2 linked regions of the Homo sapiens genome follow. The gene in region 2 interacts genetically with the main gene of each other region. Each region holds a gene or a part of one and is shown on either strand. Other genes may lie near its edges.

Region 1 (2,812 bases), on a different chromosome or scaffold from region 2:
AGGCCATTCGGCAAGACAGGCGGGAGCCTCAGCTGCTGCAGACCCAGCCTCAGAAGCAGCAACCGGGAGACCTCTGGCTCTAGCTGTCGGTGAACACGGAAAGTGGTGTTTGCTTAACGTGGAGCCAGACTACCCGGAATAGGTGTTTTCATACCGGACGGAGATCAGGGTGTTAGTGAGCAGGGTGGTAGAGCTTTACGCCCAAGTTACTACGACTTACTCGATTACACGCTTTACTGAATGTATATTGCTAACTCTTGCACATCACCAGAAACTCTGGAGTTTGAGGTGGCAGAACAGTCATGGCATTGACGATCCCAATGGAAAAATGTATTTCACCATACAGGACTGTAGAGTCCCGGGAAGCCATAATACCAGAAACAGACCTCCAGTTTCATTCTCATCCCTAGTACTCCACTGACAGCTTTATTTTTTTTCTCCTGGGGTTGCCAAGAGTCTTTGTCTATAAAATCATTAGGAACAAAAAAAAATACACAAGATTAGCCCTGATATTTTAATGGAAATACTGACCAAGTTTACAACATTTCAAATGCAGATCACACGGAAAGGTGACTAAGTACAGAATAACAAATGTGATTTAAAACAAAGATAACCTGCTGCTGCATATAATACAGGTTGGGTTTAGAGCTTGGAGCTCAGATGTCAGACAGCAGGAGGAATAAAAATGCTACTTGTGAAAACCCAGGCTGTAGGTAAAACTTACTCTTTTGTTGGTTGCACTGGTGGGTTGGGACTTTCTCCTGAACTGGCCTTGAAATCCTATCCTGACCTGCAGGCAAGTGCTCTGGACAAAACACTGCAGGGGCAGCAACAGCTGGGGCTGACCCTGATCACACCCCACCAATTTCCCCTATGGTTCCAGGTCAACATGACCTTTCTTGAGGGAACACGGGGATAGGTGAATTATTTGAGAAAACCTCAAGATCTTTCCCCTAAATCAGTACACATGACCACCGCCAAGTCAGACACTGCCCCAGCTTTGCCCTAAAATCTCATCCCACAAAGCTCTTTTTGGCACCCTACACTTTGGCTCACAGTCTCTTCTCCCCAGTACAAAAAAAGCCTAAAATCAGGCCAGGGTGGCTCACACCTGTAATCTCAGCACTTTGCGAGGCCGAGGTGGGAGGACAGCTTGAGGCCAGGAGTTTGAGACCAACCTGGGCAGCATAGCAAGACCCTGTCTCTACAAAAAGTTAAAAAATTAGCTGGGCGTGGTGGCATGCAGCTACTCAGGAGGCCGAGGTGGGAGGACTGCTTGAGCCTGGGAGGTCAAGCCTGCAGTGAGCTATGATCGTGGCACTGCACTCCAGTGTGGGTCATAAAGCGAGACACTGTCTTTAAACAATAAAAGCCTAAAATCAGAGAGGTCTACCATGTGTTTTGAAAATCCAGGAGCCAAAAAATTTTGTTTTTCTTTTTGGTGGTGGTGGTGATTTTTAACTAAAAAGCAAACATAAAACACACAGAACATTGCTGGTTACAACTAAGACTTGCGTAATGGTTGCTGAAGAAAAATCCACCAGAGTACTGGGAGGGGCTCAGTTGGTCTTTGTTCAGAAAGTCCAGGTTAACCACATAGAAAAATCCTAATCATTCATGTTTAAATGTCTGCTAGTTTAAATTTATGTAATTAAAAAAATAGGTATCCCATTTCAAATTCTCTCCCTCCCAACTCCATTTATAAGGTATACCACATGCCTTATGCACACTTTTTTTTCAAACACTGGTTTGGTATTTAAGTTGCTCACCCCCATCCATCACCAATGTGAATAAGAAAAAATATATAGAAATACAAACTACATAGCTTGACAACTTACCCAAATATAAAATATTTTCAGATTATTTGAACAAGGGAAAAAAACACGTACTAAAAGACTTAAGTATTCTAAGATTTTGGAATATTTTGATTTGGGACAAGTAACAAGTATTTTAAGCAAAATCCTGTTTCTACCCTGGATAAGGAACTGAAGTCAAAATCCCTGCTTCACAGTATTTTCTGGTGAGGACAAGGGACGTGGGTTGAGAGTTTATTCCTTAAGTAAGAACCAAGCTTTATTTATTTACAAAAAAAAAAAAAAAAAAGTTGGGGGCAAAGGGGAAGACAAGTTTTACACAAAAGTACTACAATGGTAACTCCCTTTGGTAAAAAGTGTAATAAATGTCTTGTACATCTGTTCATAGGTACTAAATCTGAAGCCACAGTACTATGGTACACAAGAAGCTAGAGCAGTTATGCTAGCACATCAAAGCATATTTCTTTTAATAAAAAATTGACAGTATGTACATTATGTACAAAAAAACAAGTTAAAATTGTGTGTGTGTGTGCGTGTGTGTGTCAGAGAGTAAAGCTGGTGGATGGCACTAAGGTAGACTAGTAAAGAGGCAGATACAAAACAGTTCCACGGGAGCTAAAAAGGACAACTGATTTGAACTCGTTGAGGTTGAGAACCAGAGGAGAGAAAAGGGTAGGCAGCAAGGGAATCGTCAGGAATAAAATCCACAAGATGATCAATCCCAAAGCCAAACTGCAGGTCCCAGATAAAACCTAATGGGTGATCTTAGATGTGCTCGAGTGACCAGAAAAAAAAAATCAAATCCAGCTTTTTTTTCCTTTTGTGGGGAGGGGAGAGGAGCAGTGACCATGATAGTTCCAATCCATCTGAGTATTAAGTCCTTCTCCAGTCTGTTTTGTAAATGCATCTCCATCCAGTCAAAGTGTGAACAGCATCCGGTTCCCTCATTGAAAGTTAGGCCACAGGAGACTCCAGTCTTAGCTCTGCTGGTGTGTGCA
Region 2 (5,786 bases):
CCTCTCCTCAGGTTTGATAATTTGCTAGTGTGATTCACAGACTTCAGGAAAACAGTTTGCTTACTAGATTACCAGTTTGTTATAAAAGGATACAACTCAGGAACAGCCAGATGGAAGAGATGCACAGGGAAAGGTATGGGGGAGGCGTGGGGAGCTTGCATGCCTTCTCTGGACACACCACAATTCCCAGCACCTCTGCATGTTCACCTATTTCAAAGCACTCTGAATCCTGTCTTTTAGGGATTTTTATGGAGTCTTCATCATGGAAGCATTGTTGCTTATTAACTCAATCTCCAGCTCCTCTTCTCTCCCGTCCCCAGAAGATGTGAATGGGGCCAAAAGCTTCAAGCTTCTTATCATGGCTTGACCTTTCTGGTGACCAGCCCCCATCCAGGAACCCAGCAAGAGTCACTTCATTAGAAGAGAAGATGCTACTCTCACCCAGGGACTAAGGAGCTCTGTCAGAAAGCAGAGTCAAAGACCAAATATTAGAACAAAAGATGACCCTAGCACCCCTACTACTCAGGAAATTACAAGGGTTTTAGGAGCTCTTTGTAAGAACTGGAGGCAGAAACCAAATACATATTTTCATATATGTATATATTTATTATGTCACAAATAGCTACATACTGGATAAGCCAGAAAGATGAGGAAACATGTTTGCATCTCACACTAGTGCAGAGATTCTGAAAAAGACCCCACTTGGAATACCAAACCACACATTAGATTGTTCTGTTCCCAATTGTGTGCCAAAGTGCACTCTGAACTGTTTTGGTAAAGCCGACCGTGGAGTCATATGAGGCTGAATAACTTGGGAGAATGTAAGTCTGCAAAATAAACCTAGGACTGGATTGATCCTCAGGCCACTTGGCAGGTGAATGTCTCGGGAGTGAATATGAGACAAGCTTCCTGAAAAGGCTTATATGACTTAAAGAACTTTTTGTTTAAGTGTTTGGTCCCAAATAAACTATTAAGATATATAAAGTAATTCACTGCTCAAAAATTACCGTCAGATAAATATTAAGGGAAGAAACACTTTAAAGGAGAATTTGTATCCACATAAATCCTTAAATTCATGGTCACAACTTTCCTAATCTCAAATTGTTCTAGGTCACTGCTATCAGTCTAGTTCTGTCCTCTATTTCTTAATTTAATACCAATACTTTTAAATTTTTAAAATATGCTGCTTTAGGTAGATTTAAAATATATCCTAACCGCCACTTTCTAACCTTCCTGAAATATACTGTTCAATAACAAATCCTTTCCTTGCTTAAACATAACTTAAATAAAACAAGAAACTTACCATTTCTCTCTAGTGTAAGATGACACATGCAGCTTAGCACTCTGTAGTAGTCTCTCTTCAATTAGGTAAAAAAGGAAGTTTCTATGGTAACCATCCTTATAGTCACTCATTCCTCCTTCCTTCCTCACCAGCGCCCAATATATATCACATTACTCATGAATACATATAAACTGCTAGCATGTCTAGAATATTCTGTCTTGAAATTATACTTTCTACTAGTGACTTTTAGAAATGACTATGCCCCAGAATAATTAAAAAGAGAAACCAAATAATTTTTAAATTAATTTATACAGAGTTTTTCACCATCAAGTTTATTTTCAGCACCCATGGGGAGTTAATAGATCTTCCCTGAAAGAGAAAAACCTTTCCTAAGGAAAAATCCTAGAATTCATATATTTGGCAACATTTAAAGGAGGCCATGAAATTTTTATCAGTCTAGAGAATTGATCTCCTTTAAGGTGACTCTGGTAGTTCCAACGATGTTTAAAGGCATTTCCTGTAAAAAAAAAAAAAAAAAGAGAGCGAGAGAAAAAGAGAGAGAGAGAGAGAGAATTTCTGATGATTAAAAAAAAAAAGTGAGGAATGCTGAGTTAAACAAAGTTAACCACATTCTCTCAGAGCCTTGAATGTGCTAATATGTGCTAATGTGTCTTATGGCTCTCTAAGGAGGGTGTAGTCAAAATCATCTTCTACACTGCTTAGTTCCCGGGAACCCACTTTTTTTTTTTTTTTATTCATGGTCGAATATTATTTATTGTCAGAAAGGTACAGCATTCACACCAATATCAGACAAAATAGATTTTAACTAAAAAATTATTTCGAGACAAAAATAACAATATATGTTAATAAAAGGCTCAATTAAAAATGTATAACAATTATAAACACATACACATCAAACAACAGTTCCCCAAAATACGTAAAGCAAACATTGACAGGATTGAAGGGAGAAATAGACCACTCTACAATAGTAGTTGGGGTCTTCAACACCCCACTTTCAATAATTAATCACAGCCACTTAAGGAACCAGTGCATACCAAAACACACTTCTGGCAGTGTTGCTTCAGGGAATTCCGAGTGTAGGGTTAATGTTCCATTTTCTCTACCTCTTCTAAAATTCCTCCTTCTTCAAATGGCTATTAATAACTTTATATTTTTGTCCTTTGTGTCAGTTCTTAATTCATGTTGCTTATAAGCATGATTTTTATTATTAAAGTGAGATGGGATAAAAATAAAATATTTTTGCAATGAGATAACGTTTTATTTTAATTCTCACCATTTATATACAAACACAAGTGAATAAAACACATCGCAAAATGGTAAAATTTCATATTTAGTATTTATAGGTGCATAGTTTCATGCTCACATATTTTTAAGTATTATATATATTAACAAATTTCACAATACGTCATTATTCTTAGACAGTATCATTAAAAGACACCTAAAAATCTTATAATATATGATAGCAAATCACTAACAACTTCTGAACAACAGCAACAAAAAAATAGTGAGGATTTAGAAATAAGTGGTAGTCACTTAGGTGTTTTTAATTTGTTTTAACATCGTAGATTGAAGCCACAAAATCCACAGCACACAAAGACCCTGCTACCATGTATTCACTTCAGTGAAAGGGAAGCACCGAAATGCTGAGTGGGGGCAGGTACAGATACTTCAATCACTGCTGATGGAAGACTTCGAGATACACTGTAAAAACTTTGAGAAATGTCATGACTGGGCACATTGGAACTGAGCACTTGTACAGGATGGAACATCTGTCAGCAGATCTCAAGAAACTGGGAGCAAAGATATTTCTTAGGCTTCAGGTTCGTAGTCTTGATACCCTTCCTAATATTAGAAAAATCAAAAAGACAGCACACACTGTTAGTATAAGTTTCAATTACGCATCAGCACTGACAGCCAATGAGATAGGAAATGGCTCCCCACTTACACTAAAATTTACAATCAATGTTTTTGCAAATATTCTGCAGCAAATATTATCTTATTTTTAATAGTTGTGTCTTTCTTGTCTGATATAAAAGTGAATTACAGTAGTAGTCAGAGTTAAAATATCTAGGTTCTGATCCGGATGCACCATTTAATGATCATATACCTAGTTTGGTAGGACAAATAAGTTGGACTGTCTGGTTCTCAGTTTCTTCACCTGTAAAATGTGAGAACAAAATCAAGCTGTCTATAAAGCCTTTTCCAGACTAAGATGCTCTAATTCTCAGAAGGAAATTAAGATGTTTGAAGGCAAGATACATTTTCCCTACTTTCACTCTCCCAGTTGAAAATTTCGTCTTCATCTATGGCTTCAATTATTACTTGTATTTCAAACCTCAAGCTCTCCATACAGTATCTGGATAGCATCCACAACACAAATATTAATGGATTTAATTAAAGGGATCAGATTATTCCTCCTAAAGAGCAACTCTAATAATATCAGGATTCTGCTTAAAAACAAACAAATAAGCATAACTTCAATAACTCAAGTTGTTTTCTGAATAGAATACAAGCTGAAATGACAAGATTATCCTAATACTCTATAACTTGTCTTTGACCCATAGCTGCAAATTCAATCTATCACCATTTTCCTTGTTCCTAAGCTTGAGTCATAATTATTCACTGTTCTCAGACATATCCATTTGCATGCTCAGACATACATGCCTTTGCTTCTGATATTCCCTTGTGCCAGAATGTCCTCTGTTTGTTTTGACCTACTATATCTCTTACCTTTTCCCACCCAGATCAACATTACCTCCTCAATAAAACTTCTCCTGATTGATTGAAACAGATCTTTAAAATGTTTTACTTTTTAGTATGTCTTATATATTTTTGCTCCTGTGATGCCTGGTACATCGAAGACAATCAATTATGTTTGTTAAAGGAATCATAATGAAGAAATGAATGAATGAATTTCTATTTTTTTTCATCAAACCTACCAGACTGTAAACTCCTTATGTCCTGGTAATGTCAATTACTCTATAGTTTTCCATTGTGTTTAGTACTGTGTCTTGCATAAAAGACCCCAAAATATTGGAAATTCTTATTAGGCAAACAAACAATTTAATCTCAATTTCTATAAGTTGAATTATTATCAATATGCCTTTCGTGTGTCTGTGTGAGACAGTCTTGCTCTGTTACCAAGATTGGAGTGCAGGGGTGCCATCTCAGCTCACTGCAACCTCTGCCTCCTGGGTTCAAGTGACTCTCATGCCTCAGCCTCCCAAGTAGCTGGAACCATAGGCGTGTACCACCATGCCCGGCTAATTTTTGTATTTTTAGTAGAGATGGGGTTTCACCATGTTGGCCAGACTGGTCTCCAACTCCTGGCCTCAAGTAACCTGGCCACTTTGGCTCACAAAGTGCGGGATTACAGGTGTGAACTGCTGTGCCCATCCTCGACATGCCTTTTAATAATGCCGTGAGGAATAATACATAACCAAACTACAACATACTTGAACTCAATTTTTAATGGAGCCATTATATAGTTTCTTTTCTTGTGATATCTTCATTTGGTTTTGATTATCAGGGTAATATTGGTCTCACAAAATTAGTTGGGAAATGTCTCCTCTTCTGTTTTGTAAGAGATATTAATTGGTGTTAACTAATTAGTATTAATTCCTCTTTAAATGTTTGGTAGAATTTACCAGTGATGCCATCTCGGCCTGGGATTTTCTTTGCAGGTAGGTTTTTTTTTTTATTACTAATTTAATCTATTCGCTGTGTTACAAATCTATTCAGATTTACTGTTTCTTCTTGGGCCAGTTTTATTCATCTAACAGTATTTTCTAATTTCCCTTTTGATACATTTTCTATTAAAGATACTTTCATTTTCAATCAAAATAAAATTAACAATCATATTGTGTTGTTTAAAACATTATACTGGAATATATCAATTGTCGCAAATCATGCATTTATCTTTTTATTCTATAACTTGTGTGGGTAACTTTTATTTTACTATGCGTCATCCCATTGGACATGTATGGCAAAAAATAATAACCTTCCTTTGGCATTCCATTGATTTCCCTAACTTTCCATTTAGAAATTTATTTTAGAATGTAAAGTTTCTAAAAATATATTCTCTAATGCAGGGGTTAGTAAACTTTTCCTGTAAAGGGTCAAGTAGTAAGTATATTAAGCTATGTGGACTACATATGATTTCTTTTACATCCTTTCTTCCTCTTCTTCATCTTCCTCCTCCTCTTTTTTTTTAAGGACCCTTTAAAAATGTAAAAACTATTCTTAACTTGCAAGTTGTCCACGTAATGAGCATGTAGAGAGCAAATGATTCTCACTAAGCACTAATGAAAGAGAAATGTGACAATGACAGGTTTTTGGTACTGTCTTGTTAGAAAGATTCAGCTTGGACTCCTACCTCAGAAGGCATTTCATAAGCCTCATTGTCAGGATCCACAGGCATATCTTCCAGAATTCCTTCCTGTGGGGCTCCTTCTTCATTCTAATATTTAAAGTAAGAAGCACA

The links. A genetic interaction does not mean that the proteins touch.
Region 1: of SNCA (region 2) and SIN3A, changing one suppresses a phenotype caused by changing the other (phenotypic suppression), as found in Homo sapiens cells (one study listed by BioGRID).

Annotation. Positions count from the first base shown.
Region 1 is NC_000015.10:75,368,879-75,371,690, forward strand, and holds the end of SIN3A (paired amphipathic helix protein Sin3a), read right to left. Parts: 3' UTR 501-2,812; downstream 1-500. UniProt on the Homo sapiens protein: Acts as a transcriptional repressor. Corepressor for REST. Interacts with MXI1 to repress MYC responsive genes and antagonize MYC oncogenic activities. Also interacts with MXD1-MAX heterodimers to repress transcription by tethering SIN3A to DNA.
Region 2 is NC_000004.12:89,723,516-89,729,301, forward strand, and holds the end of SNCA (alpha-synuclein), read right to left. Parts: intron 5,763-5,786; coding exon 5,679-5,762; intron 3,146-5,678; coding exon 3,113-3,145; 3' UTR 584-3,112; downstream 1-583. UniProt on the Homo sapiens protein: Neuronal protein that plays several roles in synaptic activity such as regulation of synaptic vesicle trafficking and subsequent neurotransmitter release.